Regions from separate parts of the Homo sapiens genome. Here region 1 is linked to region 2. The links come from fine-mapping of genetic effects on gene expression. A gene starts in region 2. The other region holds a variant in brackets. All regions are shown on one strand. Distances are from middle to middle.

The links. PIP is the estimated chance that this variant, and not a neighbour inherited with it, causes the effect. A credible set is the group of variants that fine-mapping cannot tell apart.
Region 1: its variant is the best candidate, but not a certain one, in a credible set for the expression of EOMES in whole blood (INTERVAL, PIP 0.89).

Annotation. Positions count from the first base shown.
Region 1 is chr3:28,236,606-28,253,139 of GRCh38, forward strand. It overlaps CMC1 (C-X9-C motif containing 1), which reads left to right and starts at 5,014. Exons shown (of 4, transcript NM_182523.2): 1 at 5,014-5,207. The coding sequence starts at 5,189. RefSeq lists a silencer at 5,227-5,306. The variant C/G (reference allele first, on the strand shown) is at 6,526.
Region 2 is chr3:27,712,455-27,728,988 of GRCh38, forward strand. EOMES (eomesodermin) reads right to left here and starts at 9,869. Exons shown (of 6, transcript NM_001278182.2): 1 at 8,960-9,869; 2 at 7,717-7,871; 3 at 6,906-7,027; 4 at 6,281-6,439; 5 at 6,133-6,194; 6 at 3,499-5,354. The coding sequence starts at 9,840. The coding sequence ends at 4,616. LINC02084 (long intergenic non-protein coding RNA 2084) reads left to right here and starts at 465. Exons shown (of 2, transcript XR_007095851.1): 1 at 465-588; 2 at 703-1,946. It also overlaps the pseudogene KIAA1143P2. RefSeq lists enhancers at 278-963, 1,635-2,531, 12,050-12,924, 15,770-16,534 and a silencer at 9,295-9,504.

The DNA.
Region 1 (16,534 bases), 520 kb after region 2:
TTTTTTCACACTGCACATATAAGTAAGATCATGCGGTATTTTTCTTTCTGTGCTGAGCTTATTTCACGCAAGAGTCTTTCAAAATTGAAGGACACATAATGTCCTTCAGGTTCATCCATGTTGTTGCAAATGACAGAATTTCTCTTTTTAGAGCTGAACAGTATTCCATTGTGTATATATACCATGTTTTCTTTATCCATTCGTCTATTGATGGACCCTTAGGATGATTCCATGTCTTGGCTATTGTGAATTATGCTGCAATAAAACATGGGAGTGCAGATATCTCTTCAGCATGTTGCTTTCATATCCTTTGAATATATACCCAGTAGTGGGACTGCTGGATCATATGATAGTTCTGTTCTTAAGTTTCTGGGGAGCCTCCAGACTGTTTTCCATAATGGCTGTACTAATTTACATTCCCACCAGCAGTGTGTAAGTGTTCTCTTTTCTCTATATCGTCATAAATGTTTATTATCTTCCTGTATTTCTGCTATTCTAACAGATCTTAAGTGATATCTCATTGTGGTTTTAATTTGAATTTCCCTGATGATTAATGATGTTGAACATTTTTTCACATACTTATCATTTATATGTCTCCTTTTGAGAAATGCCTATTAATGTCCTTTGCCCATTTTTATATTGGGTTATTTGTTTTCTTGCTATGGAGTTGTTTGAATTCCTTATATATTTTGGATATTAGCTCCTTATCATTTGTATGATTTGCAAATATATTCTCCCATTCCATAGGTTGTCTCTTACTGGGAATTTTATATAAGAAATTTTATAATCATATTTGCTGTTGTGGGTGACATGGAATAGAGAGAATAAGTGGGAGGAAGAAATGCCTAGGAACAGAGAGCCAGTTCAGAACTATTACAATAATATCAGCACAAATGGGCAGACCTTGGACTAGGAGTTATGACTCTGATTGGCAGATGAAATAAAGATATATTAAGGAAGGAGAACTGACTACATGTTTTGATCAATCAGATGTAGAGAAGGGACAGTCAGGAGCTGATTGAAGTGGATAGGTGAACTGAGTCAGATTAAAACAGGCCCTATTCAACAGCCAGGAAAACAGGGACAAAGTATTTTATTCTGGTGACAGGCTAACACTAGACAGGTTCTCAGGGCTCTAGTGAAGTGATTTGGGATTCAGGGAATAATTGTAGTCCTTTAAAAATATTTCAATGCTTTTATCAGTTGAACTGTGTCTCCCAAAATTCTTGTGTTGAAGTCCTAGCCCCCAGCACCTCAGAATGTGACTGCATTTGGAGATACGGTTTTAAAAGAGGTAGTTTAGACAAAATGAGGCCATTAGGATATTCATTAGAGTTGGTCCCAATCCAATATGGCTGATGTCCTTACAAGAAGACATTAGGAGACACAGCCACACAGAGGGAAGACCATGTGAAGACACAGGAGAAGATGCCATGTACAAATCAAGAAGAGAGGCCTCAGGAGAAAGCAACTCTGCCGACATTTTTGATCTCAGACTTCTAACCTGCAATTGTGAGAAAATATTTCTGTTGTTTAAGCTACCCAGACTGTGGCACTTCATTATGACCACCCTAGCAAATAATAGAAATGTCAACATGGACCTAAGTCCTTTTAAACCAGAGAAGGCACAAGCCATGCAAACTGGGTGCTAAATAATACAGCTCAGAAAGTAGGCAGGGCCACCAGGGACCCTTGATTAGTGATCTTCTGGCCGAGAACTACTTCTAAATCCTATCCTCTGGTAGAGATGAGGCGTCTAATATTCTTTCAAGTTTGATTCTTACTGACTCAAATTTGAAATCTCATTGATTTCAAGTTTTATTCTCATCTGTAGCAGAGCCAAGCTGCAGATGAAAAGTCTTTACTTCTGATGCTAAGAAGAGGCAGAAGCAAGGAGGGGCTGACTGATAATCTCAATTTCAAAAAACAACTAGCTGCATATCAACATATAGCATAAAGGAATGTTAGATCCAATTCAGAATTGACTCAAAAATAATCAAGATACTTGTTTCTACTTGCACATTCCTTTGCCTTCACATACAAAGAGAAATTCACTGTGGTTCAACTACTGTTATTACCCTGCATTACTGCAAATTTCTCTGAACTGATCTTTCTGTTTCATTATCGCCACTGTTAGCCCCCAATAATGAGGATCAAGGCAGATCATTTCAGGCATGAATAGGCACATTGCCATGATTTTCTCATTTGTCTGTATACATTTGCCAAAAAAAGGAATTATCCAGAAATCTTGACTCTTTGTCTTAGTCTTCTAAATCCAATTTCAAAGGATAGATTCTTCCTTTGCAATTACTCTCACATCCATCCTTTTATATATCCCAGTTGAGGCTCTTTTCATATCTTGCCCAAACCAGTACAATAGCCTCCTTACTTTTCTGCTTGCCTTTTAGCTCTTTCCTCGCTGCCTACATTCATCCTGCGCAAAACTTTTATAAAACACCTTTAGAAAATTTTGACCACAATGCTCTTTTCCTATATATTAACCTTCAACAGATTCTGGTTGCTTATAGTAACACATTCAAACACACCTCTGTCTAGTGTTTAAGGCTGTGGGAATCTGGACTTTTCTAGCCAATGCATAACTGCCCTAGCTTCCCAAATCCTAAAATGCATTGAAGTAGTTTCAAGCATTGCCCACCACATGCCTGCCACACAGCCCCGTGGTGCTTCCTGCCACACAGCTGGGTGCTTCCCACCCCTGTGCTTTTGTTCATGTGATTCCATTCCTTAGCCTGTACTCTGCCATGCTCCACCATGCTCTTTCAAGAACAGTTCAAATCCCAGATGCTTTTGCTCTCATTTTTCTCCCAGCATGAGATGCCCTTTTTTCTGTCTACTCATTGTACCCATCGTTCAAGGCCGAGCATAACTTCTAACTTATCTCTGAAGTCTTTCCTAACCATTGCGGCATTCAATCCTTTGAGAAAGGCTTTTGTGGGGTCACCAGTTACCAGACGTTGCCTGAGCTCTAGGGATCACAGCTGGGTAAGACACTGTTCCTAATTTCCAGGATGATGTCCTCTCCTCTTTCCTTGAGCTCCTTTTGCAGTTACTACCCAAAGAATTGCCTATTAATAATGCGATGCCTCAGGAAATTTCTTCTGTTTTTAATTGCCAATTACATTCGCTTAACTTAAAAAATGACTTATCTTCCCTAGGTATAGATTGTAAAGACTCAGTTTCCCCCCAAAGTATCTGGTTTAACATGGGAGTAGAGAGAGATATACTATTATGTATCAGGTATTGGGCTACCGTTTTTGCTAGTGCTTCTCCTGGTGTGATACGTCTAGCAGTTCATTCTATGGGGCACACAAAACCCATGATATTACAGATACTGTTGCTTAGGATAAGGCTAAAGTAAATAGTGCCTATTTAAGTGTTTTTAAAAATGTGTTGATTTAAAAACAAATGTTAAATAGTAATGTTTCAAGTAATAGCTATGGCAGAAATGGTAGAAGTGGTCCTTTAAAGTCTTTCAAATGCATTGTATGATATCACATTTATTCCTCAGAACAACCTTGTAAATTGGAAACCAAAGTCCAGAAAAATAATAGAACTTACTCAACTCACTAAGATAACAGATCAAACTTTCCTCCTTTACCATAATACCCTTTTGCATATAGAAAGATTTAGTTTAATTCTTGAATATGGGTGTCTGACCTGTGTTTTCATACTCCATCTCCTCAAAAAGATTGCTTTAGCTTTCTAAATCAAATCCTTCACCTTCAGAACAATAAAAGAGGCATACCAGAGTCATTTTGGTGTATTTCTAAGCATATTTACAAAATATACAAGGAAAAGGACCTGATTCCCTGGCTGGGTGAGTGAAACGTTAATTCTTCACCTTGGCACCTCAACCTACAGCTGTAATAAGGGCCGTTATGCCCAAATAGGCCCTTAAACGGAAGACCTGCTGAGCAGAGACCCACTTTCCCAGCCCTGCTCAACTGCCTCAGCTTTTCTGCCAACTGACCAGGCGGAAGCAGCAGCAGGGGAGGAGGGACTGCAGGTAGGTGGGGAGGGGATCATTTTGAAAGCCCTGAATCCCTTGCAGGGAAGAAGCAGCTGCTCCTTGTTTTTCTAAACATCTGTCCCATCTGTCCCAGGCCTCAGCTCACCCTTTCGTGGCTCGAGCCAGTTAAACGTGAATTTGACAAGGAAGCACTTCTGAAGGCTGGTTTGTGAGTGGAAATGAACCTAAGTGCCACCTAGAAAGTTTCTTCTATTGAGAAGAGGTGAGTAGTGGGTCTTCAGCGGGACGGCTATTACCTTCCTTCATTTTACTCTCACAAAACATACAGCTTTTACTGATAGAGGCAGGATTTGTAACATCACCCAAATCATACTGTACGTCCTGAGGATATTATTTCACAACATAGAGGTACTTCTAGAGCCCATATTTTAACGTCTAGGAGAGCCACAGTCTTTGATTTGAAGGAGAAATAACGATATTGCACACACCATATCACCTTTATGGTAGAACAAGCTGTGAACAACTAGTGCGTGTGGCGTTTATCACATTTAACAGCGTGTTGCTTTTATTTGTCTCCTCTGCCACACTGCTCCTTGAGAACAGGGACGTTATTTTTATTGTTATTTTCCCCTCGTATTCAGAACCGTGGCTGGAACTTGGCAGGCATGAAATAGACATTTATGAATGAATGAACGTTAACGAAGAAAAAAAAAGGAACTGGATGATTCATTTGGTTCTCCGAAGGCGGGTATGGGGGACGGGGCTCGGACTTTGGCCCAGTCACCGAGTGAGGCACAGTCCCAAAGTCCTGCAGGTCCGCCTCCAGTCACGGCCGACCCGGGTCTGCAACTGGTGCACAAGCCTCCTGAAGCGAGGCTGCGCGCGTCCTGCACGGTCCCGCCCCAAAGGCACGCAGACACGCCCCCTTTCCTGGTCATTCCCCCTGCGAAGTCAGTTCCACTCTAGTTACAGGATTGGGGCGGGGCCAGAAAGGCGCAGGCGCAACGGGCGGCGGAAGTAGGAGCCTGGGAAGGAAGAGGGAACGGGTCCTGGCGGTGCTTTGCAAAGGGCCCGTGTTTCTGTTGCGGGAAGCTCCCGGGGGTCGCACGTGCGTCCGAGCCCAAGCCCCTCCCCTCCACTCCCCTTCCTGCGTGCCCCGGAGCCGCCAAGCGGCTACGTTCTTCTCGGCCCGCCGAGATGGCGCTCGACCCCGCAGGTACCGGGGCGGGAAGCGGGGTTTGCCGAGGGGCCTCGCCCCGGGTCTCACGCCGCGGGCCATGCGGGCTGGATGCCGACCTGGGAAAGGTGCAGAGCTCTGGGTAGCATTGCTTCCACCAGCGTCTCCTCATACCCGGCGGCTGCTTCGCCCGGTCTGAGGTCATCTTCTCACTTGTTGGGGATTATGGTTATCTGAGGTTGCGTTTGTTGTCTAAAGTATCATCCATTGTGGTTTCCAACTTAACGCGACTAGTCTCTTCATTGTCACCCTCTTTTCGCCCCTTAAGGTCACAGATGCATTTAATGTATGCTGCAGACACTCTGGCCCCAGAAAAATTTGTATATTTGTTCTGGCGCACAGTTTTACATTTCTGTTTGGGAGTTCATGGACCCCGAGTTCATCCTTGTAACCCAACTTAAAAACATATTTCAAAGGATCCATCACTATGGCAGGAGTCAGTTTCTTTGGAAAGGATCTTCAAAATCTTGAATGTTGTTTTAATCTCTTTGCTTCCAGCCACTTCCGTTTGCAGCAATAGTTAACTTACCCTCGAATTCCCGTCCTTGTGGAAGGTCACCTGCAGTATCTTTGCGTTAGGCTATTTTTGCAAGGGAATAGATAACATTTTTGGAGGGAATGGTAGTTGGTCTAGTCCATTTCTTTCATTTTATGGATACAAAAAGTCAAAACATTGAGAGGTAAATGGCGTCAAACTTGGGAGATTCAGAAATGGAAAATGCTCTTTCGGAGCCTTCAAGGAGCATGGAAAATATATGTAGCACAGAAATAATGTTTTAATTGAACATGTTATTACCATGCTAAGTGTTCTCTATTATCCAACAATAATATGTGGTATGGTAGGTCCTTTTAGCTCCATTTTACAGATTAGGAAACTGAGGCGAAGAGAAGTTAAGTGACTAGTCCAGCAGGTAGTGGTAGATCAGGGAGTACTCTAATTTGAAGCATAGAGGAGTTCTGGAACATAATGATCATATTCATTTTGGACTAGGTGGTTATGAAGCAGTTAGCAGTTGATCTGGGCTTTGAGGGATGGAATTTCCAGTGGTTGGAGCTGGAGAAGAGGCAGCCCTATGAGCAAAGGTTTAGATAGTAAGGTGCACTGTGCGATGCTTGGTTTCAGGATGACTACCATGATTTGGTTCTTGAGGGTAGAAGGGGTAGAGTATAAGTGAGGGGTGAGTAAGGAAGGTTCAAGTTTAGGCCCATATAATTTATGGTATCTTTTTTTTTTATTTTACTGAAACGGAGTCTCACTGTCGCCCAGGCTGGAGTGCAGTGGCGCTATCTCGGCTCA[C/G]TGTAGCCTCCGCCTACTGGGTTCAAGCAATTCTCCCACCGCAGCCTCCTGAGTAGCTGGGATTACGGGCGCCCGCCACCACGGCCGGCTAATTTTTGTATTTTTAGTAGAGATGAGGTTTCGCCGTGTTCGCCATGCTGGTCTGGAACTCCTGACCTCAAGTGATCTGCCTGACTTGGCCTCCCAAAGTGCTGGGATTACAGGTGTGAGCCACCGCACCCAGCCTAATTATGGTACTTCTGAACTTGAAGTGACCTTTAAAGTAATCTCATACGGATGAGGAGACTGAGAATGAGAGAGGTTAAAGATTTCCATATATCTACACTTTTTGAATTTAGACAAGGAAATTTGGGAAAAAAGTCTTCATACTTGCTCTCTTCACTTGCTTACCTTCCAGTTACTCATAAGCCACTCCAATCTTGTGTTGTACCCAAGGCCACACAGCTAGTTGCTGGTAGAGTCAAGTCTGGTTAGAACCTAGGTAATTTCATTTCCAGTCCAGTGCTGTAGACCATGCCACCTTTTGAGTATTGATTAAACAAAGACTTGTTGAGTGTCTGGTATATGTCCCATATTGTTCTGGACCCTAGGGAACAGTAGTACATAGGACAAACAAAATTCCTGCTCCCAATAAAGCTTATCTAGTGGTAGAAAAAACAATTAACACCCCCTTTTCCCCCTACACAGACACGTGCGTGGGCACACACACATACACACACACATTTTTACAGATTGTGATAAACATGAAGAAAATAATGTCATGTGGTAGATGGTGAAGAGATTAGTCAGTGAAGAGCTTTATGAGGAAGTGTCATTTGAATTGGAATCTGAGGGATGAGAGGAAGCTAGGCAGAGTGTGCTTGGCCATCAGGTAGCAAATACTTAAAATATTTAACTTGAACGTGGGTCAGAGTGTGGAGGGGATCCATAAGGAAAGATATTGGGAAAGTAGGTAGTCACTAAATGCCTAGATATTGCAGAGGCTGCAAGTCCTCAAAGGCTGGCTGTGATAATAAAGCATTTGGATTTTTTCTAATGGCATCAAATGCCTTTAGAATCTTTTAAAGAGGGCAGTAACATAATTTATGTGTTTATTATCCTCGCTACAGTGGTAGCATGCATTGTAGAGGGGTCAGGTCATAAGTGGAAGAAGGGAGACAGGTTAAGGGATAGGAGCAGTAGTCCAGGCCAAATATGTTTGTATCTTAGCCCAAGATGGTAATAGACAGATGGAAAGAAATATACAGCGTCATGAGGAGAAATTGACAGGACCTGTGGTTGCATTGAATAAGGATGGTGAGAGAAAGGGAGGAAACAGTGGGCACCGTGGCTCATGCCCTTAATCCCAGTGCTTTGGGAGGCCGAGGCAGGCAGATCGCATGAGCTCAGGAGTTTGAGACCACCCTGGGCAACATGGTGAAAATCCATCTCTACTAAAATACAAAAAATTTAGCCAGGCATGGTGGCACACGCCTGTAGTCCCAGCTACTCAGGAGGCTGAGGAATGAGAATTTGAGCCTGGAAGGCAGCGGTTGCAGTGAGCCGAGGTTGCGCCACTGCACTCCAGCTTGGGCCACAGAGTGAGACTTCGTCTCAAAAAAAAAAAAAAGAGGAAATAGGGATAATTCCAGTTTTTGTACGTCAGCAGCTGGGTGGAAGGTCATGGTCAAATCTAACAATGTGATTATTGGAAACTTCATCAAAGGAAGGAATGGAAGCAATGGAGAGTAAAAAAGTGGAGTCAGCAAGTAGGAAGGTTTTTTTTTTTTTCCCTAAATTGTTTTGTCTGTTTAAATTCCAGAATAAAATGTATGGAAGCCAGTTTTTTTTTTTTTTTAATTTCGTGTTTATTTGGTTCATACGTTGAAGCTTAGTTTCACATTTTGATGTTTTACTGCTTTGTACAGCCCACGATGGTATTTGCCCATATTGAGTAAGTGAATAATAGATACACCAATTGAGGTTCATTTAGCAAAATCTGTTTTCCTATTGGTTTATTTTGTATTTTCTGTGATCTTTATAGAAGCTTGATTTTCATTTGGCAGCAACTTTTAATTAACTTTGTAGGGTCTCTGTTTTCCTCAAGAAACTGTGAACCCAGCGAAAAAATGCAGGTTACATGCTTATACATAGTTTTATTTACATTATTTTCCTTTTTTTTGTTAATGTAGCAGTAATAACAGCAATCTTTGCTTATTGCCATGTTCCGGACAAATTTTCAGACATGATTATATTCTCAGATGATGGCCCATAGGAACCTGCACCTGATAAATTTGATTTTTCACTTTCTCTATCAACTAAAGTAATTCCTTTCTCCCTTCTTTGACCTTTCCCCTTTTTAGTTAGGTTCTCTTCCCTCTGTCAACATAGATTCATTCTCTACTTATGCAGAATGGGGCATGGCAGCCTAAGGGAAGTTTCCTTAATCAGGTGTGTGTGTGTCCCTGTGTCCTTCTATTGCTGTTTTTTTCCGGGAACTTAATAAAAGGAGGAAGATGGGACAGAGATAGGGCTTAGGGGGTGGAAAGTGGGTTCAAGAATTTCATGACATTCCATGAGAAGGTGTTTAAGGTATATGTGTCTTGGGAAGATTTAATTATGGATGTTCTTGGAACATTTGGGTTGCAGTACTCCAAGTTGGGGTTCTTTCAGTGGTTCCTGTGGGAATGTAGGTAAATTACCTTTAGGGGTACAGGAACAGTACTAGCCCTTACATTTACTAGAAAATTTTAAGTTAGACATGTAAACAAACTTGAAGAATCTTTTTTGAGCATTGTATGTTTAATATGTAAAAGGTTGTGGAGTTGATTAGAAAAATTTTTTATTTTTTTTAGTGATGGGGTTTCACCATGTCGCTTAGGCTGCACTTGAACTCCTTGCTCAGGAGCACTTGAACTCCTGGGCTCAAGTAATCTGCCCACCTCGGCCTCCCAAAGTGCTGGGATTATAGGCATAAGCCACCCTGCCTGGCCTATAAGAAAAATTTTGATTTTATTATTGCCGCCATATCTCTAGAGTATCTTCTTAGACATAAATTACGTTGGTGGCTCAGAACAAAAAAAAAAAGACCTAACATCTACATTTTGTATATTTATAAATTAAAAGCATATTTGCCATAGAAAATACATTATTTTTGTCTCATCGGATTAACAACTCTCTGATGGTTGCTCTGTGAAATTTGAAAAACACAGGCTTAAGCAAAGACAATAAGAAAGAAGAATTGAGATCAAAGAGGAGTATGTGCCATGGCAGTGGGTTGGGGGTTGGGATTTCAGTTTTGAAGCATGAAATGATCTGTAAACCATTTCAAGGATTTTGAATTTTATACTAAGAACAATGGGAAGACACTGCAAGTTTTTAGGTAACGGAGTGACAAACAGAACTCTCCTTATTTTGTGTTGATCTGACTTTTGTTTAGATCAAGAATAACCTTGATCTCAGCCACATACTGCATACATGATGTGTCTTTCCAGAGTATCCCATCTGGAGGTACATGGGTATCTGTCTCTCGTAGGTGATGTTAATTTTGATTACCCACTCAAGGTTTTGCCCTGTTTTGTTGCCGTATTTTCTCTGTTTTGCAATTAGTAACTAATCTGTGGGAAGGTTAAGACCTTGTAAATATTTGCTTCTCATCAAATATTTCTCTTTGATTTGGGGTCCATTGATTTTTTTTTTTTTTTTTTTTACCTGATTCAGTCTTTCCCATAATGGTTGCAAAATAATGATTTTCTACCTCCAGCACACTCCCTTCACATTTACTAGATGGTTGTTGACATTTTACTGTAAGCAAGAGATTGCTTTGTTTCATTTTCATTGATTTATGAATTTATTATTGGTATTTTTGGTAAGGACTCATGAACTGCTGTATTTTCAATCGTTTGTACTCTGTTAATGTACATAAGTATTTTTTGTGTTCAAATTTCCCCAGATTTGGCCAGAGTTCCCTTTAAGCTAGCTTCTGGATCTTTGTCATATACTCTCACCATTTTTTTGAGCATTTCCTTTTTATTCCCTCACACAAGGTATCACTGCTTCATCTTGTACCTACCCTGGCCAATCCATACAATTAGTTATTTCTCTGAGAAGCCCTGGTTCCTTTTATTTGGGCACAGTATTAGAGAGTAAGAGCTGGTCACTAGAACTGCATGTAATTTGGGTGGTTTATTAATAGATTGCCTTTAGGAAAAGAAAAAAAAAACCCTTAAGAGAGTAAGGAAAATAGGAGACGGGAGGGGAAAAATCTGAGCAAGGATGTGGTTTCAGGTCTTAACCTAATCAGCTCTGGTGTACCACATGGTACATACAGTTTATTGTGCCTTGGAGGCAAGGGAGCTGGGCTTTCATGCCCTTTTTCAGTCATTGGTTACTGTAGTAGTTGGGAGAGGGACAGCAGCAAGGAAAACAGCAAAGGGCTACCATGGCCAGGGGCAGTCCTGAGAAGGTTGCAGATGTGAATGCTCCAACATTCTCTGCTGCAGGAGGGATACCAGCTCTATCCTAAAAATAATTTATCTGAATCTGTTAGGAATCTTAGTTGGATAGTAAGAGTTTTGATAGTAGTGAGAGTTCAGATAGTGACAGGTCAGATAGGAATGGGTACTTGCACACATGTATACATACACACAGGTGTGTGTACTGCATCCAGTAAAGTGTCACAGGTTGTGGTTAACAAGTTTGAATAACACTGGCTTAAGATATACCTAAGGTAGGCTAAGCTGTACTTTTTTTTTTGTCTTCTAGGCCATCGTACATGCTGTTCTCTCTAGAATTTCTCCCATCTTCCCTATCCCCAGGTCTACTGAATTCTTGTTCATTTTTCACAACTCAATTTAAAATCAGTTTCTTAGGAGAGTTTTCCTGATTGCCACCACCTCCAGTTAAACATTTTTTTTTAAGGTTTAGGATTAAAAACTCCACCAAAATATCATATAACCTATGTATAGAGTTGTTTTCCTTTTAGATATAAAATCCTTTTCTTTGACGAATAAAAGGAAACCTTTTATTCAGATATGATGCGCCTATATGTAACAAATAATTGGAGAAATAAAGAAAAACATAATTTGAAGAATGGGAATGTTCTACCTGTGTAATAAATAGTAAATATTTTTCATATGAATCCACCTCTTTAAATTCATTAGAGACCAGATAAAAGGATAGGTCAGTTAATTTCACCTAGATTATAGAAGATTGGCCACCTCCTCCCAGGGAGGTAGTGTACTGTTGTGGAATCAACACCGAATTTGGGAGTTAGTAAGACTGACTTATTGTCTCAGACTTTGTCATTAACCTGTCCTTAATGACATAATATGAGGTTTGAGGATGAGAAGTAGGGAAAGAGATGTATCAGATAATTGCTAAGGTTGCTTCAAGCCTTGAACTTTTATGATTCTAAATATTAATACTTGTCATAGGTCTCAAGGGGTTCTTGACTCCACACAGAAATAAATTCAAGTTTGTGTCTTGTTGCCTGGATTAGTATCTTTTTTAATTTTTTGTTTGGGGTGTTAAAATCATATGTGTAAAATTCTGTAGATGTCAAAAATATGAGAAGTATTACCTTGTACTTGATATAAGTGGACCAAACAAAATTGTGCCCAAATAAAACTATTGATACCCAAGTTAACATTCTCCCCGACAATCCTCTGTTCTATTTTTGCATTTTTTCTTTTTTTTTGAGACAGAGTCTCGCTCTGTTGCCCAGGCTGGAGTGCAGTGGCGTGATCTCAGCTCACTGCAAGCTCCGCTTCCTGGGTTTGTGCCATTCTTCTGCCTCAGTCTCCTAAGTAGCTGGGACTACAGGCGCCCACCACCATGTCCGGCTAATTTTTTTGTATTTTTAGTAGAGATGGGGTTTCACTGTGTTAGCCAGGATGGTCTCGATCTCCTGACCTTGTGATCTGCCTGCCTCAGCCTCCCAAAGTGCTGGGATTACAGGCGTGAGCCACTGCGCCCAGCCTATTTTTGCATTTTTAAGTAAGAAGATTGAAGGAAAAAATTGCTAAGAATGTGGTGTTTACCATCCTGCATTGTGTTTTGCTAAAGAACTGTTACTGGGAGATTCTTACAGATCAAAAGATATGTTAATTACCTAAACATGACTAATTGGAATGTAGAGTATCACATGTTTATGCTGCAGAGTAAGGAACCTTGCTTGACTGATTCATTATTGTATACACAATCCCTGGTGTGGTGATTGGTACATAATAGGTACATACGTATTTGTTTACAGTGTATCTGTAACTATCAAATACTAAAACTCTTTTAAATATACGTGTCATTTGTTAAACAGTTAAAACAATTTTATTGCATATTTACCATATGCTAGGAGTTAGAGGGAATTACAAAGATGAGTTAGACGTGGTCTCTGACCTCATTAAAGTTAACTTTTACTTGCAGTAGTTCTCAGTCTAGCTGCATATTATAATTATTTGGGGAGCCTTAAAAAATATCAATGCCTGGCTTTTACCCCAGCATTTCTGATTTAACTGGTCTGGGGTGGGGCCCAAGCATTAAGAATTTTGTACAGCCCTCTCAGGTGGTTCTTGGGTACAGCCAGGGTTGAGAGCTTCTGGTACCAAAATCTGTCTTAGTCTACTCAGGCTGCCATAACAAAATCCCATAGACTGACTTGAGTGACCCACACAACATAGACTGGGTGGCTTAAAAAATGTACATTAATTTTTTTTACTATTCTGGAGGCTAGGAAGTTCAAGACCAAGATTCAAGGAGATCTGGTTGCTGACAAGGACTCTCTTCCTGACTTGCAGATGGCTGCCTTCTCCCTGTGTGTTTACATGGCAGTGAGCGGGGAGGGATGGGGGAAGAGGAGGTTGAGGGAGGAGGAGGAGAGAACGAGAAGGAGAGAGAGCCCTCTGCTTCTTATGAGGCCACTAATCCTATCGAATTAAGGCCTCACCTTTATGACCGCATTTGACCTTAATTACCTCCCAAAAGCACTGTCTCCACATACAGTCACATTGAGGGTTAGGGATTCAACATATGAATTTGGAGAATGGTAAACACAATTCAACTCATGCCAACCACTGATCTAGCAGGAGAAGATTGGATATATAGTGTGATGTGATGTGTTTAAGTCCAGGTGTGATTATAGCAACAGAACGAGTGCAGGCAAAATCTTGGGGTTAGAGGAAGGAGAAATCACTTTTTAGTGCTGGAGGTCAGGAAGAACTTTGGGATGGAGAAATGTTGAATTGAGTTTTAAATAAGTAAACTTTGATAACAAAAAATAAGAGGTTGAAGATGGAAAATAAAGACTGAGATTGAACTAGAGTTTGGCTTTACCTGTTACTTGCCGGGTAATGCTGCAAGATTGCTTTGAGCTTTCTGAGTCTTAATTTCTTTGTATCTGCTTCTAAATGAGATGATGTTTGTAAACCAGTTCCATCCACCACCCTTTTCTTCTTTCTGTAAATATTTATCGTGTTGCTTCTGTGTACTATATAACTATAAGCCGATTTTTCAGGTAAGAAGGGTAACATAACCACTAGGTTGGCAAAATGAAGGTTTACATTGTAGGAAATTTAAGTTGGAATTGAGCTGCTGGTGGGACTTAGAAACCACCAGTAGATAGTTGAAAATGTGGAAAGTTGGAGATGGAGATGAGCACTGAGAACTCAGTATCATAAACACTATCTTTAAAGGTGGAACCTTGTGGGATTGCCCCAGGAGGATTAAGTACAGATATTACCTTGGAAGTGTGTATAGTTCTAGTATTGTTACCATTGTTCAGGATATTTTTGAAACTCCTTTAAGATTTCCCTTTGGATTCTTCAGTACACTCGTCTTAATATCCTCATTTTGGCAAATCTTTGTTCTGAAAGTTAATTTGAATTTCAGCCAAGGTTTAACCAGAGACAGTCTGGTGAAGGTGATAGACGATCATCCTGGGAAATGCTGCCTCTTCCCTTGTCTCAGTTTGTTTTATGTTGCTATAAATGAATACCTTAGGATGAGTAATTTATAAAGAAAGAAGTGTATTTAGCTCACAGTTCTGCAAGCTATACAGGAAGCATGGCATCTGCTTGGCTTCTGATGAGAACATTTATGCTGTGTCAGAACATGGCAGAGAAGATCAAAGGGGAAGCGGGCATGTGTGAAGAGGGACCAAACGTGAGAGGTGTCCTGACTTTTACAACAATCCAGTCTCTTGGGAACTAGTCATTTTCTCTGAGAACCAGCCCACTCTGAAGAACTAGTCCACTCCAGCAAGAGCAGGAATTCATTACTGCTAGAAGGGCACAAAGCTGTTCATGAGACATCTGCCCTCGTGTCCCAAACACATCCCATTAGGGACCACCTCCTTACACTGCCACACTGGGGATCAGATTTCAACATGAGATTTGGTGGGGACAAACCATATCCAAACCATATTGCTCCCACCCCAAAAAAGTTATATTATGGAACTGGTTTTCATGTTTACTTCAGATTAGCTCTGAAGCCATACCAAGAAAGATGATGTGATTTGAGCAAAGGCTGAGTCTTTGAAATAAGTGAAAAACCCTTCAATATAAAAATAATTCTCCTATTCCATTATCAAAGTATTATATTTTCTTTATAGGAATTCTATGAAATATTGTAAGATAAAAGAAGAACCAGTAGTAACATGGTGGAGAGAGGCTTGAGGAACATTCATAGGATTGAGAATATTACACAATCTTCTAGATTTATATGAGGAAAAAAAGTAAATCAGGCAATGTATTGCTAAGAAGGCCACAGGTATGCTGTCATTTATTACTTTCTCAAATGTCTGCTCCTGTCCCATAACACTGCTGATTTTCTGCCGGATATCAGTGGGAAATTGTGCTTGTAGGCGCAAAGACAGTCTTGAAGTTTTACCAAATAAAGTAAATGTGAAACTTGTTCATTTAAGAAATTATGGCCACAATGGCGGTTGTAACACAGTTCTAAAATTGGCATGTCTTATTGCATAAGTTAATTTCCTGCTTTGGTATACTTTTAAATATGTTGTCCCTTTCTGGCCTCCTCTTGGTTAAAGCAGTGTGGGTGGAAGAGGAACTTTTCACACCTAGCAATCTGCAGAATCTGAGGTCCAAGAAATAGGTGCTATTGGGAAATGGGCACATCTAGTGTGAACAAGGTGGTTAATTAACAGTGAAAGCTGATAGGACAGAGAAGCTCAGATGAAGCATACTATTGTGGGATATGGGTGTTACTTGACCCAGAAGCTAAGCAGAAATAGGCACATCTACCTCACTGATGTACTTTCCGTATTTTGTAAGCGTTTGAGCTTATACAAAATTAGATTGTTAGTGGCTGACCTAATATTTGATGTTTATTCTCTTTGAATGTGTTTTTCAGCCAGCTGACAAATTGCTCCCCTTGCTTTTAAAAATATTTTTTTCCCGTGGTAGGAAGCAGAATCAGAATTCCCTTTGATTTTACTTTCTGATAAAAAATTGAGAACTGAATTTTCAAATTTTGCTGGTTCAAATGGTGCTTCTGAAACACAAACTTACTGTCTAAAGGTTGTTTCCCTGCTTCAGCATAACTGTGGAAGCTCATTTAGCCTTGTTTGCTTAAGTCTCCTAAGGCCCCCACTCCATGTGCATGGTGGTGTCATTGAAGGTTTAGAGCCTGGGTTACATGATCTTGGCATTGGCACTTTATTAGAAGCTTGGGTCATTTCACCTCTGTGAGCCTCCACTTCTTTATCTGCAAAATGAAATCAAAATACTTACCTGAGAGAACTGTTATGAAGACTGTATGTATTCATTGCCCTCATCTTCAGGTTTCACAGACAGGCAGGCTGGAGCATTGCGGGGAAGAAAACATCTCTCCTACTCTTGATTTCCCTTTTTGTTTTTGTTTTGTCAGTTCTAGTATGGCTTGAAGGAAAGAAGGTGAATTTTCCTATTTTAAGATGTCTCTTCGTCTACCCTTCCTCATTTTACTCTGTCGTTATAGCAAGAAGGTATGAACAAACTGGCAAGAGGAATATCTGGTCATGAGCATACATATCTTTGTG
Region 2 (16,534 bases):
GGCAGGGGAAAATTAAACTCGTGTCTCTTAATGTGTATTTGGTGGGAGGGGAATGCTGCCTGAAATAATGCATTGCTTCGGCGGCGGTCAGAGATCCATGTGACGCGGGGGCACTTTAGGGACCATTGCTGAGGGCCTGGTTAGCATTTGGGCAGCTGAATCCTTCCCTTGGCGAACTCCATACGTGCCCTCGGCGACACACAGAGGACTCCCAGAGTTGAAGAAGGGGGTGGATGTGTGTGTGCGCACTCGCCCACGTCTCGTGTTTTACTTTTCATTTAAGTCGTAATAAGGAGAAATTCGATGACCAGCAAGGCTGGAGTCCCATCGTCTTGTTGGGGGAGAGGGGGGAGAAGAAAAAGGTGCCTGTAACTTCAGACTGTCCAAGATATCGCTTAGCTCCTGCGCCCGGAAGAAAATCCAGCGCAGGTCGGGTTCCGGCGCGCGGAAGCCCTGCGAACCCCAAATGTGTGCGCTGAGCCGAGGCCTCTAAGCGGTAGGAGAGAATCTGACCTCCGACATTCTTTTCAAGACACGCGCCGGTGGACCGGGTCCTGGGATTGGCTTACTCCCGGGCTGGACCTTGGGGTTCGCATATTTGAAAGCGTAAACTTGAGGAATGACGGCGGGGTGATGGGTATTTTATAGAGTGGGACTCAATCGTGCTCAGCAACAGATTTCTCCAAATTCCCTTTTAAAAAGAGCCTCCCAGAGCTGTCGAAATCTCCGCGGGGTGAAAGCTAAACTTTTGGAGTCGCTGTGTAGCCGGGTAGAGGACACGGCGGCGCGAGCCGGAAAGATAAGTGTCCAGGCGAATGGGAAAGGAAAGATCTTAATTTTTGTTCCTACTGTTAGCTGAATGTCCATAAAAATCAAAGGGAATGCGGGGAAGTTTTTATTCCAGAGCGTTTCCATGACACCCGCAGAGATTTAAAAAATTACATTCCTCCCCCTACGCAGGTTTAATTCGGAAAGAAGAGACTGCAGAGGAGAGGGAAGACCGTGAGTCTGCTTTCACCTAGGTTTAAAGCGAATCAAAGACGGCTGTAAAAAGGGAAACCGGGACCAAAAACAGATTTGGAGCCTCGAAACTCTCCATTGAAGGTTTGGAAGATACGTTGCTGCAGACTTGAAACCGGCTCCAAATCCGGCCCAAACATGGGCTGAAAATATGGCGCGCTAATCTGCTGCTTCCCCTCCTCCTCAAGTTCTTTCTGACTCTTCCCACCTTTCCCAGTTTCCCTTCCAGACGTCTGCGGCTCCCCACTCCACCCCCAGGATAGCTACTCTACATCCCGACAATTCCCAGCTTCTACACCCAGGAGGAGGAATTCTGGAACCACCCAGAGCGAACTCGTGCCGGGGCGGGGTGGGGACCGGAGGAAGGTCCTGCTCCGAATTCTCTCCAGAGCAGAAAAGAATTCTAGAGGCTACATGTGGGCTGCTTTCCCCCCTTCTTCCTTTTTTCCCTCGCAAACCAACAACCAAAAAGTGTTTGGTGATGGAAAGAACACCAGTGGAAAACGGCAAATAACAGTATTTCCAACTCCGAGTCAGGTCCTCTTTGCACTGCTTTTTCCTGTTTCATTGCAATTTATTGATTTTATTGTGGTTTTTTGTTTATTTGGGGCAAGAACGGAGATGTGAACCAGGACGAGCCAGCAGACCCCCGAGCCAGTATCTCCTCCCTGGGCAGGGAACACCGCCTGCACCGGTGCATACTAGGAGACCCTGGCGGAGAATGTAAACAAACCGGGCGCCGAGCCCTTGATCTTTATTTAAATAGAGGCTTGTTTATCGGTGTCATCCTAGGAGGATTAATTAGATACATCTCTTCACAATTTGGTGTCTGACACTCCATCTTAGGAATGCCTTATCATAAGGTGTTAATTGGGGCCACTCAGCCACTTACGTTTCTATTAAACACTGTGAGGGACTTTTCACAAGTACCAGGTTCTTTTTTACTGTACGATGCAAAAACATACAGGACCCGAAATAGACTAGGGCCAGAATCTGCTATATCCCGGCAGTGATTAGCACTTTGGGGCTTTCTAGAGGGCAGAAATAGGAGAGCACTGTTTTCGAAATTCCATCGCATCTCCCAATATTCGGTGGTTGGATGCAGATGTAAGGGGGCTGTTGGGGGTGTGGGGAAGGCGCTGACCAGGATAGGGGGGCTATGAGTCTCCCTTCCGGAATCTAAATCAGTCATCCACAGTACATATATCTTAAAAAGCACATCTTCAACGCTTTTGTCCTTGGCTCCCCGGTAAAGTTCGGGGCGCCTTTGCCAAAGTGTTTTGAGTAGGCCGTTCGGAAACGCGGAGCAGGAGTTCGAGCCCCCAAGGTCACGGGTGGCGCGGGAAGAACTCGGGCCCCAGAGGGACGGAGGGGAAGGGAGACAGGACAGTCGAGGTACAAGGTCCTGGCGGCCTTAATTGGGCGCAGAAGGGGAGGAGGTCTCGGCTGATTGCTCGCCTCCCAGCAGCTAATCCTCTTAGCAGCTGCATTTCCGCGCTACACAGTTAGCAGAATGATCCTCCCAGCTAGACCTTTACCCCGGGAGGGTCCAGGAGGGGGCTGGAAAGGTTTGCAATCTGGGCCTGAAGCCGTCTGCAGATAAGCCTGGCGGGACGTCTGGCTGGGGGGACAAAGGGGACCCTCCACCCCACTCTTTGGACCTCCCAGGGTTCAGCCAGGGGATGGGCTGTCCTTCGTCTTCCCGTGGAGCGTGGGCCAAATAAACGGAACTAAGCGCAAGGTGAACTGCTCCAAGGTCACTGTTTGCAGAGCGGCAGTGCACGGAACGACTGGAATCCTCCTTTGTAAGTGCCACGCCCGTCCCTAGCCTGCGCCTCAGACCGAGTCCGGGCGGAGTTTGACTGCAGCTACTGAGGCCGGCAGCCGGCGGCGGCGGGTGCGCAGCGTCTGGGTTCAGAAGAAAGCCGCAGGTGGGCGCAGAAGCTGAGCTGTGTGCAGCCCCCCGCTCCGCCGCGCCCCAGGGACCCTGAACTGGTGGGCGCTCAAAGGGCCACGGGGGTTCCCAGGGAGCCTAGGTGGGCCTAAGGATGGGTGGCCCCAAGTAAGCCTAGAAAAAAGCCCAGAGAACTTAGTGGCCAGGCGCTCTGACAGAGCCTGGTCTCCAAGAGCCAGAAGCGGAGGTTTTCGAGGCTTGGTTAAGTCTGATGTGGGCAATCGGCAGCAATCTTCCCTCCCCCGTTCCCCCGCCCCCCTCCCCCGCCCCGCCAACACCCATTGTCCAGACTTCCCAGTGGGGTAAGGAAATAGCCCCATTCCACTTCAAGGAAAAAAGAAGATAAACAAAACATCCCCACCCCCGCATGACTACAGTATCCAGTTAGAGATTCTAGAGCCTTCCGTGGAGGTAGGGGATGGGTGAGGCACTGTTAAAGCTGAAAACGATACAGGAGGAAGCAAAATGAGATCTTTAAAGCAAAGATGAAAACCCCAACAGCACAGAAGACAGAGCTATGTCCGTTCCCTTACTGAACCACATTTATTAAAAATGACTAAGACTGTACATAAAAATCCAAGATCTCTAAAATGCCTATAGGAGCTGTGGTATCAGGTTTTAGTTTCTTCACATTACCAAGTTAGGGAGAGGGGATGGCGCAAGAAGAGGATGAAATAGGAGTTTTCCTTAAACACGGTTCAAGTTAGTACATAGTAGCTGAATACATTCTTAACTATCTAAGAAGTAAACAGAATATTCCCAAATATCATGGGGATGATGAAACTCTCCCCTTGCCCCTGCAGCTGTTAAGTGATTTGCAAATTCTTTACAAAGCCAAAGCACCAGTTTTACATTATCCCAGACACCTATGTAGACTATTTGTACAATATATACCACATTATTCTATAGTGTATCTAAACACACAACTGTACACTTTTAAATTCTCCCTTTTTTTTTTTTTTTTTTTTGGTGACTCCTTAGCTTGCTCTCTCCTGAGTCCCACTGGCCACCCCAGCACACAGCAGAGGCCTAGCAAGTCTCAAGTGAGGCAATCCTGGACTAGGGCAAACATGGCTTGTTCCAAAAGCCGGGGGTTAAGGAATCAAAGTCAGGTGAAACTATCACTTTCACAAAAGCTTTTCTTGACTCCTGGGCCTAGTATCTTTTGCCCCTGGCAGAATGTAACAGCAAAATGTCTCCTTCTGAAACGGAAGGCACAGCCCTCTTTCAGAAGCAAAACACCTTAACACTCGGCTTCTATTTGCTTAAGAATTTACAAATAGAAATGAGAATCAAAGGTTTTAACTCATCTGATAGCACTGGGCACCCAATGTTCACAGCCTGCTTCTTTGAAGGGTTAGTGTCTCCCCAATAAATAAATACAGAACCTTGGATACCCTTCGAATTTTAAAATACCTTAAAGTCTTCCATTAATCTTATTTTTTAAAAATGCTAGGTTTGTTTCAGTTACCTGCAGCAATCAAAAAGCTTTGGCACCTTCTTTTAGAGAATTGCACAAAACAGGATGCATCAAGGTGGAAGGCAAACATCTTTTTGGCAACCTAGGCAAAGAAGACAACAAAAAACACCACCAAGTCCATCTGCAAAAAGTTAGCTAATTTTTGAGGTTAAAATAACTCTTTAGGGAGTTGTGTAAAAAGCATAATACCCTCCCATGCCTTTTGAGGTGTCTTTACTATACTCTTCAGCATTAATGTCCTCACACTTTATGGAGGGTGAATTTTCATTACTGGAGTTGCTAGGAGACAGCCGCCTTCGCTTACAAGCACTGGTGTATACTCCTGAATCATTGGAATCTAGAGATTTGATGGAAGGGGGTGTCTCTATCCAAGAAGAGCCAATTTCCTCTTTCACTTTCTCCTTGGAGAGCTGATCTTCAGAGAACACAGTGGGGCTTGTTCTGGAGGTCCATGGTAGTCCAGCTGCCATCTTCCTCTGGTAAGAACCTCGACCTCCCCACCCTGCCATTGCAGGAAAGGTTGGGTCTGGGTAATACCCCAGGGCATGGGATGTCTGAAGGGGCAAGGATTTAATGCCATATGGGAGCAATGTGCTAGAAGTATATTCAGATTCATAGGAACTGATGTCTAGTTTGTTGGTCCCAGGTTGCTGGACAGGCGTGACAAGCCACCGCTGGGGAGGGTTGGCCACCTCTTCGCTCTGTTGGGGTGAAAGGAGGCCGTTGGTCTGTGGCACGGTTCTCTCGCCATTATAATAGCGGGCTTGAGGTAAAGTGTTGACAAAGGGCTCCGGGAAGAAGGATTGAACGCCGTACCGACCTCCAGGGACAATCTGATGGGATCTAGGAGAATCCGTGGGAGATGGAGTTAACCTGTCATTTTCTGAAGCGGTGTACATGCTACAATATAAAGAGAAACACTTAAAAAAAAAAAAAAACCCTAATGTTGTCCCCAAACAAACCACCTCCCAGAAATGAAAAAGGCTTGTGTTGGTTATCTACACCGAAAGTGCTGGTCTGTTGGGCTGAAAGAACAGAGGCAGGAGATGCACTGGCCCATTTTAGCTGGACTCTTGGCTTATTGGGAAAAATTTCCCACCATGCAAGAAAAAGTTTCCTCCTAGGCATCAAGTATTTAAACTATAGAAAATCTACCTTTACTAGTCCTAGAACACGAAAAACTCAGATCAAACCTCCTTTGTCAATGTGATGGAAAAAACACTGGCTGTGGCGGTAGAAAACTCAGATTTTAAAAAGAGCAGGGCCTTGCTATTTCGTGTTGTGAAATTACATCCTCTTAGTTTCAGTTTTTTCTTATGTTAAAAAAAAAAGTGGGGGTGGGGGAGAGTAATAATATCTGCTCTTGGGAGGATAAAAAAATGGATCAAATGAAAAGAAAGGTATATATAAATGCAGATTCTTAAAATTTCAAATCTTCACTCAAATGCTAAAAAAACCTCTTCATTTTTAAGTCCTTAACATTTCTTCAGAAATTAACACAACCTTTCTGAGAAAAATCTAAAGCAAGATTAGTAAAGGAAAAAATTTTGGAAAAAGAAAAATATGTAAAAATCCCAAAGGTAAAAGCTCTTCCTAAAATACATTATCAGCAAAGTGCCTGTTGATGTATGTCCTGCTCAGAGATGATCAGGCAAGTGTGGATAAAAGCTGCACTTACGAATCATAGTTGTCTCTGAAGCCTTTTGCAAAGGGGTTATGATCAATCTTTAGTTGAGTAATCTAGATAGGGGAGAAAAACAGTCATTGAGTGATTTATCATGCTGGACCTTAGCTTTAGAGATTCTTGAGATGTCTGGGACACTCACATCGGTGTTTTGGTAGGCAGTCACTGCAATGAATTGCGTTTCTGAGAAGGTAAAAGTCTGGGTCTTTGAGGGCTCATTCAAGTCCTCCACGCCATCCTCTGTAACTTCAACAATATGCAGTCGGGGTTGGTATTTGTGTAAGGATTGTAAGACTATCATCTGGAAAGAGTACAGAAAAAAATTGCTAAATCTAAAAAGCCTCTTAGTGGTTCAACAAAATTAGATTTTGACAAATTATGTATTTTGGTATTGGACTTCTAAATGCTCCTCACTAACAGCTTTGTTTATTGCAAGTTTAAAGGTCTCATTATTGCCCCCCCCCTTTTTTTTTGAAATTTAAATCATAGCTGGGTATGTGGTTGTGATAGATATGCTTTCCTCTTGGTTTCCTAAATTCCCAAAATACTTCGCTATTTCTGTTCTTAATAGTCAACTCACTGTTATCGAAATCCAATAAGAAAGTGAAGATGAGAAAGGTCAAAAGAACAAAAATGGTTAGAAATAGGCGAGCAAACAGGTCACAAATGCAAATATTATAAATACAGTGAAAAGAGTAGGGACTCTTATTAGAAAAAAGCCTTATAGTCAAAGCCAGAAGATATCCCCTCCTGCTCTGTCACTCTACCTGGGTGTTGTTGTTATTTGCGCCTTTGTTATTGGTGAGTTTTAATTTCCCGAATGAAATCTCCTGTCTCATCCAGTGGGAACCAGTATTAGGAGACTCTGGGTGAACATACATTTTGTTGCCTAAGAGAAAATGAAACAAAACACAAAACCCAAGCATATAGGGCTGTTTACAAATGGAGAAAGCGGAGGGATGTCTCTTAGCTATGAGCAAGATATAAGAGCTAGACTTACAGTTGGTCTCCCAGTAAAAGTTGCTTAAAGAGGCCAGTGGAGACCAGCAGGACTACATCCATATCCCTCCCAGGCCCCTGTGCTTCCAACCTTCCTTGCACTAGGGACTCCCCTGAATGGCATTTCAGAATTTAGAAACGGAGCTAACAAGAGATGACTCTTGAAGGTCAATTTGGGGCCTTCTAAAGCTGTAAGGGCAACATCCGATGGAAGACAGTTGGATATTTATGGGTGAACTAAACTTTGGCTGGGCTTTCTCAAGTGAACATTAGAATCCCAGGAGCCCTTCCCACCTGGAGAGCTTATGACTACTGATTTGTTAAACGTAGGGATTGGGGGGTGGGGTGATGTCTTAGTTAAAGGTTCTAAATATCTACATATTGGCAGACAAGAAATCTGACTTAGCAAACTCTCCTCTCCGTCAAACAAGCAACTCAAAGACACTCATACTAACACCTCTAGGCCTCAGAATGGAAGGGGAAAAAAAAAGTGCTACATTTAAATGTGAGTTGTGTGAGTCGAGGGTTACGATTTCTTCCCGCCCGTTCCTCCCCGGCCCGAGCCTCTTCTCTGCTCACCCTGCATGTTATTGTCGGCTTTGCCACAGGTCACCCATTTGCCCCCCTGGAAGCGCCAGTGGTTGGGGTCCGCCAGCACCACCTCTACGAACACATTGTAGTGGGCAGTGGGATTGAGTCCGTTTATGTTGAAGCTCAAGAAAGGAAACATGCGCCTGTGCAAGGGAATAGAATCAGAAAAATCGATTTTAATTGGGATGTCCTAGAACAGGCCCAGGCCCCAGCGGGTTCCCCAGACACCTGGGATAGGGTCGGAACACATTTAAAAGTTTGCAGTGAACAGAATGCTGGTAGATCAAGTGGTCTGAAACTATGTAAAATATTTTTGAGTTGGCAACTCTTGGAACCTTTCCGTCTTTTCAAAAAAAAAAAAAAAAAAAAAAAAAAAAAAAAAAAAAAAAGCTTGCCCCAACATCGGTATATTCCAAATTCGCGCGTGCTTCCGAAGGCTCATATTCTCGGCCCTTTCAGACGCTCTTAAAATTTTTCTCCTAGAATGTTAAAAACTACTAATTTTTAAATGCACCATTTTGAAAAGTACCAGAGAACAATATTAGGTTATTCTTGTTAAAAATATATATTAAAACTTTAGGCTAAAAGTCCCCTTTGAGTGCCCCTCTCTCAGCACCCACCCCTCCCTTTCCCCAGAAGTAGCCAGTGTTAGCAGTTGGATGTATATCAGAACTTTCTCGCGCACCGAACCCGAGCCAGGTCTGGCTCCAGGGCAGATCTAACCACCTACTCCGACCGAGCTTCCGAGGCCGGCGCTCTAGCCTTCATGCCCACCTCCCGGAGACGCCCCGTGGAGACCCTGGCGCCTAAAACTGCGGGAGCCCATCTACTGCGCTCAGGTGGCCAGCTCTTGAGCCTTCCCTATCCGTGGCTCCTTGCCGGCATGCAGGCATGCACAAGCATACCGCCGAGCAGGAGGATCTAACGAATCCAGCTTGTGGACATGCCCTAATTTCCATTTCCGCCTCCTCCAGGTCTGTTCAGGTGAGGATGATGGGAGGGAAAAGCGGTGTACAGCCGTAACATTGGCACCCTGCAAGAGCCGCCGGGGCACTGACACAGAGGGACACCGCATTGGAGATGCGGTGTCTACGGAGATTTATTGCGCGCGGTGAAACACTCTAAGCACCGCGCGGAACAACTGGGTTCAGCTCCCTCATCCCGGACCTTCCCCAGGACCACACGTCACCCTTTATCCCCGAACCCAGGGGCCCCTCCACGCTGCGCTCACCTGCCCTGTTTCGTAATGATCATCTCAGTTTGGTGGCGGTGGAATTTGAGCCACAGAGGCCGGTTGCACAGGTAGACGTGGGCACGGAAGCCAGAACCTGGAACCCCCAGGCCCCCCAGTCCTCCGCAAGATCCCGCCGCTGCGGCTCCAGGGTACGGCCCGTAGAGCGGAGCCCCCTGGCTGTACTGATAGGTGCCCGGGCCGCCGCCCCCGCCGCTGCTACCGCCCGCGCCACTGCCCGCACCGGCTCCTGGGCCGAACTGCGCCCTCCCGGGTGGGCACACAGCCGCGGGGAAGCCGCCGGGGGGCAGCATGGAGCCGTAGGGGTAGCGCGCCCCGTTAGGAGCCGGGTACACAGGTCCGTGGGGCGCCCCAGCCGCCGCCTGGTACGGGAAGAGTGAGCAGGGCGCAGCCAGCTCCGACCCCTGAGGACCGGGGGACTGGAGGTAGTACCGCTCGGAGCTCAGGCTGTCCATGGAGTAGCGCGCAGTGGCCGCAGCCGCGGCGGCGGCGGCGGCGGCGGCTGCAGCGGCGGAGGGCAGCTCCTCCTCCCCGCAGGGGGAGCCCTTGCGGCCGTCCGGGGGCCCCGGCTTGGCCACTGCCGCAGCGCTGGCAAATGCGTCCCCGGCGTCGGTGTCACTAAGCATGGCCGCGGGGGCCCCTGCGCTGGCGGCTGCGGGCTCCCCGCTCACCGCCTCGCAGGAGAGACTGCCGGAAAACTTCTTGGACGCTTTGTCTAAGTCCAACTTCTGAGGAGAGGGGGCCGCGCTGGGGAGGTGGCCAGCGCTCCCGCCGCTGCCGCCTCGCGCACTCTCCAGCGGGTAGAAGTGCGCGCCAGGCAGGTTCACTGAGCTCACCAAGAGCTGCTCCCCTAACTGCATGCTTTGCAAAGCGCAGACGGCAGCTGGCTGCTTCCTCTCCTCCGGTGGCCTTATTATAAAGGCAGGATGGGGGAGCCAGCGCCCTCTTCCGAGGGGAAGGTAACTTCCCCTTCCTCCCGCGCCGGGGCTACCCACCTGCCGACTCGCGGGCCGCTACTGCGCGTACTGGCGCGCCCTGAATCCAGCGTCCTTTCCGGAAGGAAAGCGCCGTGAGTTGGAAAGCAGGAGGTGGAAACTAACCCAGAAGCCCTCTCCTTTTCCTTCCTCGTACCTCTTGCTCCTCAGGACCCCCACCCTCCTCCCAGGCTCACACGCTGGAAGAAGGTGACTTAGATCTTTGTCCCCATCCACCCACTAGCCCGCGCCTTTCTGCCCTTTTTCAATTGCCAAAGCATCGGTCAAGTTGACCACTTGGAAACTTATGGGCTGTCACTAGCTGCTTTATATATTTGCGGCCAGGGAGGGGCTTCCCGGCCTCACAGCCCGGAGACCCTCCTATTGGCTGGTGGAGGTGACACTAATTCAATTAGGCATTTACTAATTGGATCAAGTCGCCTGTGACTTTCTTTTCCTTTTTTTTTTTTTTTTTTTTTTTTTTTTTTTGAGACTGCGTCCCGCTGTGATAATCAATCCTGGTGTCTGTAATTTCGCCGGAATTTAGGGGGACAAAGTTTGGGGTCTCCATAGCGGTGTCCACCCTTGGCGCATTAGTCATCTCAGCCCTCCGCTGGAGGAATGAGATGGCTGGAGCAGATTTTAGAGGCCAGAGAGAGAAAGACTCTTCAAGCTGATAGCTTGCAGGGAAGCGCCCGTCCCGGAGGCTGGGGAAACTGGGGCAAGTTGGAGACAGGCCCAAGGAAGTCTCTTTCCTCGTCGGAAGCTGTAACTTCAAAGCACACCTTCCTCTTGTCGAAGGCAAACTCCCTGGCCTTCAACGCACAGAACCACTTTTTGTTTGTTCCCATCCTTTTACCCAGTGGGAAAGGTTTGTAGAGAGGAAACTCGCGCTAAGCTTTTGGGATTCCGGGGACGGCCAGAGCACATTGCCATCCTGGAGGACCTAAGCTCTCAGCTTCTAAATCAGAAGCTTGGACAGGGTACTGGGGACAGGACAAGAGTGAAACTAAGCGAGCTAACACCAACTTCATACTCACGCCAACACAACTGCTTTCGGGGAGACAGTCACTTTTATTCCCCACAATTTAAAATCCTTTCTGCTCAGTTTTCCTGATCCCGGATTCCGTCCCTTCACCACCATCTTCAGTTAGGCCTGACACCAAGAAACAAAGCTTCCCTAACAGCCCCACAGTTAGGATTCCCTGCGCCTCTGCTCTGCGGCAAATACAGAAGGTAGAATAATTAGTGAAATAATCAGTTTGATATTGAATTAAACTCCAGCTGCTTGTTTCTTCGCTGCGTTTCCTCAGATAGATTCAAGAGCGGGGCCGTCATATTTTATCGTTTCATTATTACGGAAGCGGGGGGCACGTTTCGTTGCGGATAAGGAGAAGCCTGAATATTCGCTGTTAATAAGCAATTACAGACGCCGCCAGTAATCGCTCCGGGAGCGCATTTTCCGGCTGAGATGTCGGGACTCTGCTTCCCCAACCGAACGCGATCACACGGGAAACTCTTCGCCCACAACAGATGAGATGGCCAAAGGATTGCTGAGTGCGCACACGCAAGTGTAGAACAGTGCGAAGCTTTCCAACCCAGTTTTCCAACCACAGCAGCACCAACATCGGCATGTCTGGGGTCTCCGAGAACGAGGTCCTTAATGCACTTAGACTCTCCAGGGCATTTATCACGGTTTTTTTTTTCTTTTTTGATGTGTGTGTTCGCGCGCTCGCGCGCTCGCGTGTGTGTGGTGGTGAAACCCAGGAGTGCGCGAAGATTTTCAGGGTCAAGGCACAGCCACAGGGGAGGGGGCAAGTTGAGACTAGTGGGCTGGGGCGGTGGCCTTGTAGGTCCTGGGACAGAGTGGCCAGGAGCAGATCGCCAGAAAGCTGGTACTGAGCGCGTTCTGCCCTGCGCTTCCTGCGTTTTGTGTCATCAGTATAGTTAGTGTTTGGCACGGCTGTTTTGATCACTACATTGTCCATGCCTTCCTCCCCTGCTTTAGTGTTATTTTGACCCAAGGAAGTCTAGAACATTGATTGTTCAAGTAGTATAGCTCTGTGAATACCTCATGACTGTCAACGTGAAGATCCCGTGAGGGGTACGCGAGCTCAAGGAAAGAAAGAGGCCGTGCAGCTTGGGCGGCTTGGACGACGTATCTATCCCTGGGCTAGCGGGTCCTGATTACTATTCGTAGGATCCTCCACATTATCCTTTACCTGAGTTGCAAGATATCTAAGGCAAAAGTAGGGATGAGAAATCTCCCTAATGTGAGACCTAATCTCACGTTATTTGGAGCTAGGGTGGCCAAAGGTACATGACAGTTTTGCGCTTTAACAAAGCAAGAAGCGGGCCTCGGCGTCCCTTCAAAATGCTTTTGACGCAGCCAGGGAAGCGCTTCGCGTGGCAAAGTGCCATCGCAGGCAACAGGCATCGTTCCGACCCACTCTGGCGCGAATAACGCGGGCCAGCTGTCCCCCGAGCCACATCAGAAAGCGTTGATTTTATTCCAGCCCCAGAGCAAGCTTTTGAAAGCGCATGAGTTCAGTATGAGCACCACCTAATTATTAAATATACACACGATGTATATAATTAGAATTTGTATTGATTCTTGGGGACAGGAAATTTTGGTTGATATCTACCCACTTCCCCAGTAAATCTATTATTTTTCCCAAACTTCAACACATTTTACATATGGAGGAGCAAAGACAAATTCAAAGAGAATAAAAATTCAGTTTCTATAAAACTACTCTAGGACCCAGGATTTTTGGAACATGGAAAATATGTACATAATATTATATTACATATTGTATTACATTACATTTGTAAGTATATGTTACAAATTCTCTTTAAAATAATGAAAAGCACTGTTTCAGCTACAGATCTTTTTTTTTCTGGCTGAAGATAAAAAATCTCATTTAATGGTTCCTCTGTGTTAATTAGCTAATCACATTATTATTATTATTATTACATTTAGAATATACTAGTCTAGAATGCCTGGAGAGTTATAGATGAGCAAGTCTGTGATTTCCTGCTTGAAATGGGCTTTCCTTTTGCTGGCTCAATATTATAGCCAGGGGAAGAGACATAAAAAATATTTTCACGTGTCCCAGCCACACTTTAAAATCCAGGCACTCCTTTCCAGAAGTAGGAATAGAAAAGAAAGCCAAAGCAGTGGCTTAAGTGAACATGTCAGGCAGCACCCTCCTTAGACTGGGTGGGCAAATAACAGAGCCTTCCAGCCTGTTTGCTGTTTGATTTCAATTACACCCCAAGCTTCATGAAATCCAAATGAGACATTTATTGAAAGGTGCCTGGTTTTATGTGGCTCAACTGACAGTGTATTGGAATACATTGAACAAAAACATCAACACTGGGGAGGAAACATGGAAACCCCTTGAAACCCCAGACCCAAATACCTGCTGGATTAACTCAAATCTTGTACCTTTCAGCCTGAGATGGAGCAAGCAGGAATCTTTAAAGGCTACCAGGAAGCCAAGGCCAAGTCTGTGTGTGAACACATTAAAGATCTCACGCTCTATTGTTCTGAGGAATAATACCAACTTCATACCACTGTCTTGGTCAAAGTTATTGCCAACTTGACCAGATGACCTCTTTATCTCTTTCTCCCCCTTAAAGGTAACCACTAGCCATGCATTGATCTTTTAAAAGCAAAACTGAGAAGCATTTGGTTGGAACAGGATTATTATATAAGAAATACATTTACACACATATGGGTATGTTACAGAGGTGAGTTATAGATGAGTGCAATGATATAAGGTTTACCTCTCCCCATGTGCCACCCACCCCCCACAACCAAGGGGGCCCATATAAATGTCCCAATAAATACTATTATTTTCACCCCCACTAAAAACGTGTTATCAAAACACTGTCCATGTTATTCAAACACTTTGTAAATTCTGAGCAGACTTGCTGCCGGTTCTCCTTTTAACCCTAGGAAAACATTCCAACATTAACCGGTCACCAGCGCTTCGCCTGGACTCTGGGAAAGCGTCAATGGGTTTTTTGTGGTGAGTTGGTCCTTTTACTATTTATCTATGGCCCTTTCTTTGTTGATGTTACATTTTATTTCACCAACTCAGGTTCACTCTTTGGCCCTTTGTTCTCTGATGGCCAGATCTGCCACCTCTGCTGTGCTTTCCAAAGAGGGAGGGAGCTTTAATCACCGTTAGGTTGTTCATGTTTCATTTTTTTTTAAGCAAATGTCCCGTAAGATAAAACATCTTGGCAAAGACAAGCAGTGTTGATTCTGCTGACAAGAGCAAGATACTCCCACCAAAAGTTTCACTTTTATAAGAATTTTTAGAATTTATATTTCACCATGACACTGAAATACACTGACCACTTGCTTTACAAAAAAACAAAAACAAAACAAAACAAAAAAACCCCAAACCAGAGCTACACATGTGTGACGTGAAGTGTTATATTAAACCCATGGTATTTTTTTCAACAAAAATGACCAATTTAAACTATTATCTTTGCTTTAAGTCTATATATCTACATTGCTAATGCACTTTGTGGTTCACTGTTAAAATATGAGGAGGTGAAGGAATCCTGAAATGGAAGTTAATAAATAAACACACTAATAGTTGCTTATTACAAAAGATAAATTATCTTCTCCTAAAGATTGAATCAAGAGTCTTTGGCAACAGCACAAAATCATGACTTACCTTTTTTATGAAAGTAATTTTTAAACTGCTAATGAATTTCTGTATTTAGCTGCTGTTTTATCATCATCATTATCATCATCTTTTTCTTCTTCCTCATCATGTATATGGGAATATATAATAACAAGAAAAGCCACATTAGGCAAAGAAAGTAAAACACTCTCAAGAAAGTGTATTTTGGGAACGTTTGGCTAATTGTTGCTACACTATATACGAAAGTTATACGGGGCTCCATCTATCTTGCTCATTTTTCTACCCTGAAAAGCCTGGAGCACAGTAGGTGCTTATCAATTAAATGAAAAGATTTACTAAACCTGTGTGCTGGAACAGCTAACAGAGGTCAGGGACAGTGTCAGGTCTTAGGCTTTATAACCACAAGGACTAAAGTTTTTTCCTAAGAGAAAAAGAAAACAAAGATCTTTCTAAATTAAAAGACATGATATTTTCATCTTTTTCAGACTTTAAAATATATCATTTTTAAGACCTTTTCTATCTCAAGGTTCTTACATTGTGGCATGGCCTTTGTCTGTATGTCCATGCTAAGCTTCTTCCATAGCAAAATAGAAAAAAAGAAGTTAGTGCTGGAATTGTAGTACAGCTGCTAAGGGAAGCAAACACCATGTCACCAAGGAGAAATGTTAATCTGAATGTAAATCAATTGTACTTTACTAACAGAGTTGACAGAGTCTATGAAAATTAATGTTTCAACAGAAGGCACACCTATGATACAGGTGCAGCAAGATGTCTACACAACAGGTGGGCAGAACCCAAATCCTGTTGACCAAGGCTTCAATATGACAGGGGTAGCTGGAATTCCCCAATCCAGACCCTATGTGAGAAAAGTAGGGAGAGGAAGTTTGGGTTGGGGGCAGAAATAAGTAAGCCCATAACATAACCAAGTAAGAAACAGTGAGAGGGAAGGAGAAAGGAAGGACAGACAACAGGATAGAAAACCGTCGCAGTCATTCCTTAAAGGTCTCCCTTTCCAGACTTCTAAGAGAAAACAGAACCTTGTATCAGAATTGTATGTATTTGTGGCTGTAACCTTTACTATCTTTGTGAGTCTGGGAAAGCTCTTTAACTTCTGTGTGCCTCAATTTCCCCACTTGTATAACAGCATAATTAATATGAAGCAATTAGAACAGTACCTGGCACCTACATAGGAAGTCTTTCCTACTACTCGCCATTACACTTAGACTGAGCTTACTTTTTACCGTTCTTACTAAGATACTGGAGCTAAATGAGGATGAATAAACCTTAGTCTTTTTCCTCCCGGGGATTCCCAGTCCGATGGGGGAGGCCAGGAGCAAACAGGTCAAAAGCAACGTGAACCAGGGGTAGGAAGCAGGAGGGAGTCAGTCAGAACCAAAGAGAGTCCCCAGTTACTCTAGCAGCTCTTCTTTATTTCCCCGAAAGGGGAAATCAAGTGCCCTCCCGGTGAGCTCGGCTGGAGAGGTGCACTTCAAAGCGAGGCGGCTGGGGCGCCCTAACCAGGCTGTGCCTTCCGCCCCCTCCAGGCGGCCATTAGCATTCTGTTTTTCCCAAGGCCTCCAGTATCTCCCGCCACCCGCTGGGATTTTGCCGTTCCGGCCGATTACTTGTCAAAGAAAGAAAATAGGGTATTTAGCTCAGCTTTTGTTCTCCACCTACTTGGTTAAACGCCTGACCACGAAGGAGTTAAGTGAGTAGTCGGAAGCCTCCCGCAGGGTTCTCGCTCCAGGAGAAGGCACCCTTAACTGGATGTCCAGAAAAAGAGGCCATCTGGATCCACTCGCTGTGGGTCCCTGCGGGCCTCAGTGGCGGCATCTGCAAATTAAGGGGACAGAGCAAGTGCAGAGCAAGATCTACCGCAGAGAGCGGCTGTCGAGGGAAGTCCGGAGGAGGCCCCG